3 separate regions of the Homo sapiens genome follow, and all the other regions are linked to region 2. The links come from fine-mapping of genetic effects on gene expression. A gene starts in region 2. Each other region holds a variant in brackets. All regions are shown on one strand. Distances are from middle to middle.

Region 1 (4,239 bases), 110 kb after region 2:
CATGTTGTGGAGACCTGCCTGATGGTCAGAGCGTGGCTCTTTCACGAGGCAGTGAGTCCCCCTTCACTGAACAGCATGTGCAGTGGTGGTGCAGAGGGGCTCAGCCTCTGCAGGGCTGGGCAGTGGCAGCAGGTCTCATCGGGGTCATTGGGAAATACAAGAAAATGCCAAAACTCTCACCACCTACTCCAAATTGAGTAGGTCAGCAGGTGGGGGCTGGACGTCTATATTTTTACATGTACCCTGGGAAATTCTGACACAAGAGGCATAAGCACCACTCTTTGGGAGACTCCATGGAGTAGCAAACATGTGAACTGGCTTCAGGCCCCAAACATCTGGGTACCAGGCTGGAGAGGAGACATGCTTTCCTGAAGTCTGTAGGTGGCTTTCTGTTTGGATGTGATCCTGGCAATGACTGCCAGATATTCACCTTGAGTTCCTGCTGCGGAGCCACAGCAGGGGTGTACCTGTGTCCACCCCATGGCCAGGGGCCAAGGCAGCGTGTGGGTGCTGGTGTGAGCATCTTCACACCAACTCCATACTCCACAGCCCTCCGGGAGGTGAGGCAATCAAACATTTAGGACCAGGCTACCTGGGTTCAAATCCCATTTGTGGAATTTGCAAACTGTTTCACCCTGGGAAAATTGCTCCTCCTAGGTTTCCTCCCCTGAAAACCGGGAATGAAGGCTGATGAATATTAGCTTTAGCAAGAGATAGTCTTCTTATTTTGACACCTTAAGAATAGCTCTTCGCTGTTGGAGCTATTTGATCTCATTCAGTCTTCAGAACAGCACTGCCTAGGAGCTGGGATTACAGACAAGAACACAGGGGCCACTAAAGTAACATGCCAGAGTCGGGCAGCCAGAAGGTGGCTGAGCTGGGATCCAGCTGCCATCTGTGTGATCTTTGGGTAGGCTCTGAACCTGTGGAGAGAGCTGTGTCTGGGGCCAGGCAGGACAAGAGCATTTTCACCCTAGTCCTACTCTGCAGTCAGGACTGAAGGCAGGTGCAGCCCAGAGTTGGGGCACAGACACCAGACAGGCACAGCCCAGAGGGTGCCCAGGAGGAAGCGTGGCCAGGACCAGCTGAGAGCTCACTGTGGAAGCAGGACCAGGCTTGCTGCTGGAGTTGGGAAGCCTGTCAATTTTTTGTCTTTGTTCCTGAGGCTGACTGGGCATCAAGCCATGCAGTTAAGTGACCGAAACCCTGGTCAGCAGTAGCAGGGGTAACAAAGGTTGGGCCTGGCATCAGGTGGTCCTCGTCCTGAATTCCAGCAACTCCATGTAGGGTCTGCATGACTTCAACCAGTGATAGGTCAATCTGTCTTTCTGCTTCAGCAGTAAAATGGGGTGAGAACCCTAATCCAGGTGTGCAAGAAATAACTGAAATTCTATTCCTGATGTCGTTGGCCACGGGCCTTGTGCAAAGTAGGTGCTCGGTAAGGCTGAGCAGCCCTTTGTCTGGCAGCCTGTTACTCTGTGATGAGCCATTTTTGGGGGGATCTCTTTCTGGGAGGGAGGGTTAGAGTAGGGTGAAGGGTAGGTGTGAGGAGCATCTGGAGGCAAGTTATCACTCATGAAAAAAATGAACACAATTGTTTCCTCTAGTTTTATTCATCTGGAAAAGACAGAAGCAGCTCAGTGGGTTTATGTCAGCATGACAGGGCAGGATGCATATTTAAAGTGATGGAAATTATGTTGTTGATTTGAGTAAGCAAAAGAAAGAACATATACATACATCACACACACACACTGTCTATATGTGTATCTATATACATGTGCTCACAAATGCTTGGTGAAAAACATGGCTTATTTTTTCCTTCACTGTATAATAGCTTTATTGAGATATATTTCACATAACACAATTCACTTGTTTAGTGAACAGTGGTTTTCAGTATACTCACAGTCCTGTAACGATTACTATAATCAATATTAGAATATTTTTATCTCCCTCAAGAGAAACCCATCCCCATCAGTTAACACTCCCCATTTCTCCTCAACCCCCAAACCCTAGGCAACTACCAGTCTACCCGCTGTCTGTAGATTTTCCCATTTCATTTATTTTTCAGCCTGTGTATTAAGTTAGTGCCTGTTCTGGGCAGAAGACATTCCTGTGTCCTACTAGATGGAGCTCTGAGCTAGCCTTGTAGGTGGGGAAGATCCAGATTCCTGAGGGACTCATGATCTGGCGCTGTCTTCACTGCATACCTGAATTCCAGGTTCTGGAGTGGGCAGGGGTTGCTGAGAACCCTCGCCCTTTGGCCTCTCCCGGGGAAGTGCTGCTGTGTGGTGCGCTCACTGTCAGCAGGGCTGTCTGGGCAGAACAGGCCCTAATTCCTGCTGGGGAGTGGGAGGGGACCCTGGTGGGGGCATAAATACATCTGCATTAAGCTGTTCTTGCACTGCTATAAAGGAATATCAGAGACTGGGTTATTTATAAAGAAAAGAGGTTTAATTGGCTCACAGTTCTACAGGCTGTACCAACAGGCACCAGCATCTGCTTGGCTTCTGGGAAGGGCTCAGGGAGC[T/C]TTTACTCATAGCAGAAGGCAAAACATGAACATACATGTCACATGGCGAGAGCAGGAGCAAGGGGGTGGGGGGAAGGTGCCACACACTTTAAAACAACTGGATCTTGCGAGAACTCTGACTATCGCGAGAAAGGATAGCACCAAGCCATGAGGTATCCACCTGCTTGACCCACACACCTTCCACCAGACCCCATCTCCAACACTAGGATTACATTTCAGCATGAGATTTGGCAGGGACAGATACCCAAACCATATCAACATCTGAGTCTGACTTATCACCAGAGGAATGCAGGCTGTGGCAGGAAGTGAGTCCTCACGCCAGAAGGCCTGACTGCGGCCACAGTGGGTTTGAGAGGAAGCAAAGCCAGGCATACTGTGTTTCTCTGGGCCTTGTGCGATGCTTCAGATTCGGTTATGGAAGGATGAGGGATGGGGTTGAGGGGAAAGGGACGAGGAACATGGCAGAAAGAGGGAATTCTTCAGCAAAAACTGTGAGAGGAGTCAGAGTCCAATCACAGGGGCCAGTGCTCCCTCCAGGCCCCCTGTGGGCAGTGGAGCTGCAAAGGGAGGGCGATAGGACCCGATCCCTGTCTCCAAAGGTGGTCTGACAATGGAGTGTGACACACAGCCCAGGAGGCAGGTGGGAGCCCTGTGATCCACAGGGGCCCTGAGGAAAGCAAGTTGCATGGTCAGGGGCTGGCAGGAGGGCACCTCGGAAGTGGTCGTGTGGAGTCTGGCCACTGTTGGCCATCAAGTGAGGGTGCAGTAGTGGAGGTAGAGTGGGTCTCCAGGGGGCTGTGCATGTATCACAGCCTGGGCTGAGAGCGGAGGGCACACTCTAAGGGGGTGAGTTCAGGAGCCCTTATGATGCTTGGACTATTTGAAAGACAGGGGCAGGCACAGGGCATCTCCAGGCTGGTGTGGCACTTGGGGCAGCCACAGTGGGAATGGGCCCTAGAACCAGGGAACAGAGAGGGCTGCCTGATAGGATTCACCACCTTCAGCCGGGAGACGCAGCCAGTCCGCAGCAACCATGCAAAGAGGAACTGGGAATGCTCTCCTCCCTCGCTACTGGCCCCTGCTCCCGCTCCCCATTGGCCAAACCTGGCCGGAAGTAGGAGGCCCAGGACCCTGTTGGTAGAGTCCTTGGACTGGCCTCCCTGGTACAGAACCGGTGGGGAATGGACTGCAGATACAGCACATACCTGCCCTGGAAGGGAGATCTGGCCAGATACAGCACATACCTGCCCTGGAAGGGAGATCTGGCCAGCTGCAGTTTGCTAAAGCCACACCAGGTAATAGGAAAAGAGCCTCTTTATGATGGGCTGTGTTGCTGAACTTGGTCTTAGTTTGGCTCTGGCTGGCTATCCAGGGTGATCCAGCTGGCTGGTCTGGGAGGATATGTTGACCCAGCCATCAGCTGGCCTCTCTGGGTTCAGATCTTTTTGTTGCAAAAACCTACTCAGAGCTTGAGAAGAATGGACTTGGGATGAGCTAGAAAAACTGGAACAGCCCAGGCCCATGAGATCTGGGGTTTCCAGGTTATTTACTAGGGTGCCTGGTTGGTTCCTCATTCTCAGACAGCAGATTTGGGCCTTGGCTATGACTCTTCCAGTTGAGGGACACTTCTGGGAGAGACATTTCCTCTCATCTGGGTTGACATGGCTTTTTCTTGGCTTTGTTGTTCTTTGAAATGTTATTAAATGCAGTAT
Region 2 (4,239 bases):
CAAAGTTGAGAGCCAAAACAGGTAAAAGAAGGTGCCATTTATTTGTAAACTTTGCACCCAGATTAACTTTATCATACTTTTTCATTTTCATGTAGTTTGATCCTTTTTGGATATTATTCAGCTTTTCTTTAATAAATTGTTAGGATCCAAAAATATACCACACCAGTTAACAAGAAAATCTTCACTTCAATCTTAACACTTGAAAAGAAAAATCTTGCAGACTTTGCTCCTATTTGGGGATAAGCAGGGGACTAGTGGATAGAAGAAGGTGCTTTCTCAAGTCAGTGACAGAGGTTGGGCCATGCCATCTTTTCAGAGCCAGTGCTGCCCTCTGAGGGCTTCAGCTCAAAGAGGGGAGGAAGGCAAATGAACAGAAAATGAGGCTACAGAGTGGTGGGTATGAATTTTCACGGAAGACTGGGACTGGGGAGAAAGCAACGAGCTGTGCCAGAAGGAGCCAGAAAGGTTTCAGAAAGGATGTTCTGTTGGGGATGCTATTCCAGGAGGAGGGACCAGCTGTCATCAAGTGTCTGCTGGGGGCCTTTGGTGTGAGCTACTGGGGACATGGGATGGGAAAGTGCCCCTACTCTAGACAAAGCCTAGAGGTGTCATCATCTGCAACTATTAAGTTGAAGCATATGAAAGAGCTGACATGTGACAACTTTGGCCCTTTTACAAAAACGGCAATTTTGTATGGTTCAACCTGATACCAATTCCAGATAAAATGGAAATGCCTCAAATTCTAACCTTTGTTCCGTATAACAACACGTGGAATCCCTGAGAGTTAATGGAATCCCTGGGGCATTTCTAAAATAGACCAATGCCTGGGCGAGATCCCTTAAATCCTGGTTTCTGGGAGTGGGGCCTTCTGCAGGGGGCCTAGCCTCCTGGTCTCCATTATTTCATGGGATCCCAGTTCCTGGTCTATCCATATTGAGGGGACGAGAAGCAGCCGGGATAACGGAGGAGGCAGGGGTTCTTGCAGTGGCTACTCCTCTCTAGGCCTCCTGGAGGGAGCTGATCATGAGAGATCCTCACTGTAAGGGGGATGCAGGCAGCCCAGGGGCCGTCTGAGCACCAAATGACATCATGTACTTGAAGCACCAGCACAAAGTTGTCTCCCTCATAGTGAATGAATGTAAGCAGTGGAATTCGACTCGCGGGTTTTAACCCCCATGGGCCAGCGTCCTTCCCTCCCAATTGTCCTGCTAGAAGAAAACGTTTCGCTCTCTCTCGGGTATCCAGCTAATCGTTAAGGCAAACAGCAGCGCCCCTTTTCCTTTCATCTCTTGCCCCATTTCTGCACCTACAGCCTCACACCTTCTTCCCGGGACACAGCACTGCCAGGAGCCCATCCTGGTTCAGTTCAGTACCCAGGAGGAATCCCTCGGGCCGACTCCCAGGACTTTGTTTCTTGGACTTCACCACCGCCGCCTCCCCAGCACAGCTCCCGCAGCCCGCACCCGCCCACAGGGTCTCCGCGACCCTAGAGCTTAGGGAAGAATTGCCGAGGGGCGGGGGGTCCCTCATGCGCATGGAAGGGACGTACGCCCCAGGCCTCCACCTTCCTCCTGACCCCGGGGATTCTTGGACGTCGATTCTCCGTCTCGTAGGGGCGAGGGCCCTGGGTTCGCAGTCAGACGCGGGCCCCTCTCAAATCTAGTGGCCTGGTTTTATTGAGTGGGGGAAGGCACATATTTTCCAAGATTAACTGCCCCGCAACAGGGAATTTCGCAGGATTTCAGTATTTTCGACTCCCCAGGTGACGCCAAGAGGGTGGGTTCCACTGTGCACGGTGGGGAAACTGAGGCTCGGAGGGGACAAGGAAGGTACTCGAGGTCACGCGGCTCCTCCGGCGGGCGGGAACGCAGGACGCGGAGTTGGGGCGCGGGCTGTGCGCGCCCAGGTTCGCGGCTCCCGGGGCTCGGCTGTCGCAGCGCGGTCGCCGCCGAGGACCACGGTCGGGGCGCGGGCGGGCTCCAGTGCGCAGGCGCGGCGGGCGGGAGGGGACGCGCTCCGGGCGCGCGCGCGGGGCAGCCGGCGCCCCAACTCCGCCCGCCCCGCGCCCCGCGCCCCGGCGCCTCGCCGCCCGCCGCCCGCCCGCCCCGGCGCCGCCGCCCGCGCCCCGGCGCCCCGGGCCGGCGAGGGGCGCGCCCGCGGCCGCGGCCGCTGCATGGCGCTGAGATGGCGGGGGCGCCGCGCGGCGGAGGCGGCGGCGGAGGCGGCGCGGGCGAGCCCGGGGGCGCCGAGCGGGCGGCCGGGACAAGCCGCCGGCGCGGGCTCCGGGCGTGCGACGAGGAGTTCGCTTGCCCAGAGCTGGAGGCGCTGTTCCGCGGCTACACGCTGCGGCTGGAGCAGGCGGCCACGCTGAAGGCGCTGGCCGTTCTCAGCCTGCTGGCGGGCGCGCTGGCGCTGGCCGAGCTGCTGGGCGCGCCGGGGCCCGCGCCCGGCCTGGCCAAGGGCTCACACCCGGTGCACTGCGTCCTCTTCCTGGCGCTGCTCGTGGTAACCAACGTCCGGTCCCTGCAGGTGCCCCAGCTGCAGCAGGTCGGCCAGCTGGCGCTGCTCTTCAGCCTCACCTTCGCGCTGCTCTGCTGTCCTTTCGCGCTGGGCGGCCCCGCCCGGGGTTCCGCCGGGGCCGCTGGGGGGCCAGCGACCGCCGAACAAGGGGTTTGGCAGCTCCTTTTGGTCACCTTCGTGTCCTATGCCTTGCTGCCCGTGCGCAGCCTGCTGGCCATAGGCTTTGGGCTCGTGGTGGCTGCGTCGCACTTGCTGGTCACAGCCACCTTGGTCCCCGCCAAGCGCCCACGTCTCTGGAGGACGGTAAGTGCAGCCGCGCACCCCTCATCTGGTCTCGGACACACTTGCTGGGACGATGCTGGGAATGCCCGGAGTCGGGCGCGCTTTTTCCTATGCGGCGGGTGGGGACACTGAGGCTCCGAGTGGGGGTGTGTTCAAGGTCACTCCTACGAGTTGGGGACGCAGTCGGGGCTGGCACCCTCCGGCCAGGGCTCTCTTCAGAGTTACAATCCACGAAGCGCCCCTGGCGTGAAGTGTGGAGAGGGGAGACAGGTGTGGAGAGAGAAAGGTTTGGCCAAGGTCAGGGAGCTGATGAGCGGCCAGACGGCGGCCAGAGGGGTCCGCCGGTCTTTTGCCGCACCCATCCCCACAGAGGGACTGAAAGTGGGCGAGGAGAGCAGACCCCCAGGGCAAGCTCCAAGGCCGGCTCTGCGCGCAGCGCTGGGCTCTTCCCCTGCGCACCTAGAGCGCGTGCTGGGCTCGCCTCCCAACCCTGCGGACCCGAGGGTGGTATATGGGTGGTGGGAAAGGACTTCGGCTCTTCCAGCCTTGCTGGCCACCCTTCTGTGGACATGCCTCCGGCCCAGAAAGAGTGGGGTTTGCCAAGGTCAAACACAGTCTAGTCCCTGCCGCTGCCACTCGGCGGTTGCCCTGACCCTGCCTTTTCTGCGCCCGAACTTTGTCACTGTCTTCCCAGTCGGGCGGGCGAGATGGTTGCAAGGACGGGGACGCTGTCTGCCTCCCGCGGACTCTTCCTGGGCCCTGGAGGAGCCTGCTCTTCCAACTGCCCGGAGGTGGACGTGGACCAGAGGTCTTTGCCCCACGGCGGGGCTTTGAGAGCTTCCCCTTGTGCCCATCTCCAACGGGCCGCAGGGATGGGGCTGGGGAGTTGGGGGGTGGGGAGATTTGGAAGACCCTGAGGAGGGTTTTGTTTCTGCCTCTAGCTGCAGTTTAGCAGGGGGATGGTATGACTCAAATGGAGTGGGGGAGCCCATCTCACGAAAGGAAGCAGTGGTGGGAGCAAACTGGGGAGAGGTAAGGGGTCGGAGGGGAAGCTGAATCCAGAGAGATTAGGGAAGAATAACTGGGGGGCGGTGGTAAGGAGTCCCACAGCCCGGCCCCGGGGGACCAGCACCCAAGGATCTAAGGAGGCATCCTTAGACTGTGATGCCAGGGGCAGCACACAGTCAGAGGAGCCATGAGATGCTCAACCTGGCACAGGGATAGACACATCACTGGACTTGTGTCTTAGGGTCAGAGAGAGACCACCATGTGCTCAACCCGTGGGCAGGGGCGGGAGGGAAGAAGGCAGGAGTACATGGAGAATTGTCAAAGAGGGCGTCGGAGGAAGAGAGGAAGAGAGGTAGAGGTGAAGGGCAGAGGCACAAAAGGATGGCTAAAGGCTGAGGAAAGGGGAAAGGAGCCAGAGGACTTCATGTC
Region 3 (4,239 bases), 230 kb before region 2:
TACCCAAAGGATTATAAAGCATTCTACTATAAAGATATATGCACACATATGTTTATTGCAGCACTATTTACAATAGCAAAGACTTGGAACCAACCCAAATGTCCATCAATGATAGACTGGATAAGGAAAATATGGCACATATACACCATGGAATACTCTGCAGCCATAAAAAAGAATGTATTCATGTCCTTTGCAGGGACATGGATGAAGCTGGAAACCATCATGCTCAGCAAACTAACACAGGAACAGAAAACCAAACACCGCATATTCTCACTCATAAGTGGGAGTTGAACAATGAGAACACGTGGACACAGGGAGGGGAACATCACACACCGGGGGCTGTGGGCGGCGGGGGGGCAAGGGGAGGGAGAGCATTAGGACAAATACCTAATGCATGCAGGGCTTAAAACCTAGATGACAGGTTGATAGGTGCAGCAAACCACCATGGCACATGTATGCCTATGTAACAAACCTGCACGTTCAGCACATGTATCCCGGAACTTAAAGTAAAAAAAAAAAAAAAGTAAAAAAAAAAAAAAAAAGATATGTAAATGTCAAATAAGCTCATGAAAAGATGCATTCAAGAAATGCAAATTAAAACCAAATGAGACACCAGTAAACACCTATTAGAATGTCTGTAGTTAAAGGACTGAACATACCAGTTAATGATGAGTATGTGAAAAAACTGGGACTCTCATGCATTGCCACATCAATGTAAAATATTGCAACCACTCTGGGGAGCAGTTTACCAGTTGCATAAAAAGTTAAACATACAACTACCATATGACCTTGCCATTTCACTCTAAGGTTTTTACCAAGGCACAATGAAACTGTATGATCATACAAATCCTTGCACAAAAATATTCTTAGCAGTTTTATTTTTAATAGCCCAAACCTGAAACAACCACACATCCATTAACAGGTGAGTATATAAACAAATTGTGGCACATTTATTACAATGGAATAATACTCATCCATAAAAGCAATAAATTAATGATAGATGCAAAAGCATAGATGAATCTCAAAAACATTATGTTGAGTGAAAAATGATTAATGATATAATGCAAAAAAATGTTTTTCAGTTCTGAAAGACATAAGTCACCATTAATGAACAATAAACAAACAAACAAAAAAAGTTAAATACAGATAATTACCAGAGCTTGAAAATAAGCATTCCCACAATTACAACAAGAAAAAGTTGGACAAACTGAAATCTGTGACTTTTCTTGAACCCATCATATAACTGAGTTAACAGGATAAACTACCACCTTAAAATCCAGACAGACAGGTACATCCAGAGAAATACAAGATCAAAGATTGCTTACTTGGAACAGAAGCTCCCAAAATGTATAATCTGGTGGCAACATTTAAATGGTCATTTTCATAGAGTTGGGAGGCTGAATACAGAGTTGGTGAGTAAGGAGCCCTAAGGGTCTAAGACAGATGGAGATATCCACATGTACATGGGCTTTAGCTCAGTAACCTCACCAGATTCTCATTGTGAAGATATGAGAAATATCCTTCTTGGACCTGGAAGGACTCAATGTCAGTAGACTTATCCTATAAGAAATGTTAAAAGAACTTTGGGCCAAAGAGAAATAATATGCCAGAAACTTCGGTCCATACCAAAAAGGAAGAACATCAGAAAAGGAATAAATAAAGGTAAAATAAAATATTTTAGTTTTCTTATTTTTAATGGACATAAAATAACTTCGTTTAAATTAATAATAGGAAAAATCTAATGGAAGGTCATAGCATATAGATAAGAGAAATGAATGAGCACAGTATCACAAAAGATGGAAGAAAGATCCCAGATGTGGTGTAAAGTTACTGGAGGTGGAAGTAAATTATTTAAAAATGCACATCGTAACACCTGCAGCAACCACTAAAAAGTTTTAAATGGAAGTTTAAATGATATGCCAAAGAAGAGATAAAGTGGAATAATATAAAATATTC[A/C]ATTGAAGCAAGAAAAGATAGAAAAAAGGGAAGAAGAAGAGAAACAAACAAAAAAAGAAACGAGAAAAAAGCCATTATAAAGATTGTATATTTTAGCCCAACTATACCAAAAAATACTTGAAATGTGAATGGTGTAAATACAGCAGTTAAAAGACAGATTTTATTGAATTGGAATATTAAGACTCAGATAGGTATGCTATCCTAAAAGTAATCAAAAGAAAGCTCGATTACCTATATTAATTTCAGACAAAGCAGACTACAGAACAGGAATATCATCAGGGATAAAGAGTGACATTACACAAACAGGAAGACAATTCTCCAAGAAGACCTAAATGTTTATGCACCTAACAACACAGCATCAAAATACATAAGACAAAGGTGATAGAACTGAAAGGAGAAATCATATTTTAGTTGGAGACCTCAATATCTCTATACCAGTAGGTGATATAGCAAGCACACAGAAAATCAGTGCGGGCATTGTGGAACATAACAGCATCATTGATCAACTGGTTCTAATTGACATCTATAGACGACTTCATCCAACAACAGCAGAATACATATTCTCCTCAAGCTCACATGGAACATTCACCAAGACAGATCCCACTCTGGGCAATAAAACACACCTTAACATATTTCAAGGGATAGATATCATACAAAGTATATTTTCAGATTGCAGACAAACTGAACTAGAATAACAGAAAACTAGTTGAAAAATGTCCAAATATTTGGTAGTTCGACAACACACCTTTAAAACCCATGGGTCAAAACAGAAGTCTCAAAATAAATTAAAATGTATTTTTTTTGTAATATTTTTATCTAGTTTTGGCATTTGGTATTAGCGTAGTGCTGCCCTTATAAATGAGTTGGCAAATGTTTCTGAATCTCTTTTGGGGAAGAGATTTCTGGAAAATTCAATGAAATTTGAATTTTGTGGGGTGCAACTAAAGTGACTGGTATAAATCTATAGCATTAAGCTGCATATATTGGAAATGAAAAAGATCCAAAATCAATAATCTAAACTTCCACCTTAGGAAACTAGAGTAAGAAGAGCAAATTAGACCTAAAGCAAGCAGGAGAAAGGAAATTATAATTATTAGACCATAAATAAACAAAATTGAGAACAGGAAAACAATAAATAAAATCAAAAGTTGGCTTTTTGCAAAGATCAATAAAATTGACAAATCTCTAGCTAAGCTAACCAAGAAAAAATGAGGGAAGACACAAGTTGTCAATATAAGGAATGAAAACGATATGTATCAGCACTACTGATCCTGTGGGTCTTAAAAGGGTAATAAAGGAATACGATGAACAACTCAGTCCCCGTGTATTTGGTAACTAAACGACATAAAGCAATTTCTTGAAAGACACAAACTACCAAAATTCACTCAAGGATAAATAGATAACCTTAAGTTCAATTTATCTATTCAACACAGTCCCATTAAAAATCCCAGCAACCTTTTTTGTACATATCAAATAACTGATTCTAAAATTTATGTGGAGAGGCGAGAGACCTAGAATTCCACCGTAATTGTAAATAAGAAGAATAAAGTTGGAAGATATTCATCTTACTCAATTTTAAGACTTATTATAAAGTAACAGTAATCAATACTATTTGGTATTGGAGGAAAAATAGACACATTGATCAATGAAAGAGAATAGAGAACAGCAATACAGACTTGCAATGGGGTTACTTCCTGATAAACCCATCATAAGTTGAAAATATTGTAAGTTGAAAATGTATTGAATACACCTAACTTATTCAACATCATAGGTTAGCCTAGCCTAGTTTACCATAAACGTGTTCAGAACACTTACTTTAGCCCACAGTAGGGCAAAATCATCAGTACTCTGATGATCAGTACTCAAAAACACAGGACTCTGCAGAGTGTCACTTGTTTACCCTCATGACTGCATGGCTGACTGGGAGCTGTTGTTTGCTGTCGCTGCCCAGCATCACAAGAGAGTGTGGCACAGTGTATTGCTAGCCCAGGAAAAGATCAAAATTCGAAACTGAAAGTATGGTTTCTACTGAACGTGTATAGCTTTCACGTCATCATAAAGTAAATAAATCCTAAGTCCAGCCATTTTAAGTTGTCTGTAGTGTGATACAAATCTAGTGAAGTGATTTTTTCACAAAGGCAGAAAGGCAATTCAATGAAGACAGGATCATCTTTTCAACAGGTGGTGCTGGAACAATTGAGCATCCATGTGCCCACTCCCCACAAAAGAGAGCCAAGACACAGACCTTACACCTTACACAAAAATGAACTCAAAAGAGACCAA

Direction of the effects. Positions count from the first base shown, and alleles are read on the strand shown. Sizes are in standard deviations (SD) of each study's normalised expression. Not every link is listed here.
For the expression in aorta of the gene that starts at base 2,009 in region 2, A is the high allele of the variant in region 3 and C is the other (moderate effect, 0.51 SD a copy in GTEx).

What was found. PIP is the estimated chance that this variant, and not a neighbour inherited with it, causes the effect.
Region 1: its variant is the best candidate, but not a certain one, in a credible set for the expression of ADCY1 in lung (TOPMed, PIP 0.63).
Region 3: its variant is the best candidate, but not a certain one, in a credible set for the expression of ADCY1 in aorta (GTEx, PIP 0.57).

The regions. Positions count from the first base shown.
Region 1 is chr7:45,686,907-45,691,145 of GRCh38, forward strand. The region is part of intron 14 of ADCY1 (adenylate cyclase 1); the gene reads left to right. Among named protein-coding and RNA genes, the nearest start is that of ADCY1, 110 kb to the left of the region's middle. The variant T/C (reference allele first, on the strand shown) is at 2,528.
Region 2 is chr7:45,572,360-45,576,598 of GRCh38, forward strand. It overlaps ADCY1 (adenylate cyclase 1), which reads left to right and starts at 2,009. Exons shown (of 20, transcript NM_021116.4): 1 at 2,009-2,823. The coding sequence starts at 2,185. RefSeq lists an enhancer at 1,023-1,583 and a silencer at 2,395-2,494.
Region 3 is chr7:45,338,497-45,342,735 of GRCh38, forward strand. No RefSeq gene overlaps it. Among named protein-coding and RNA genes, the nearest start is that of RAMP3, 180 kb to the left of the region's middle. The variant A/C (reference allele first, on the strand shown) is at 1,957.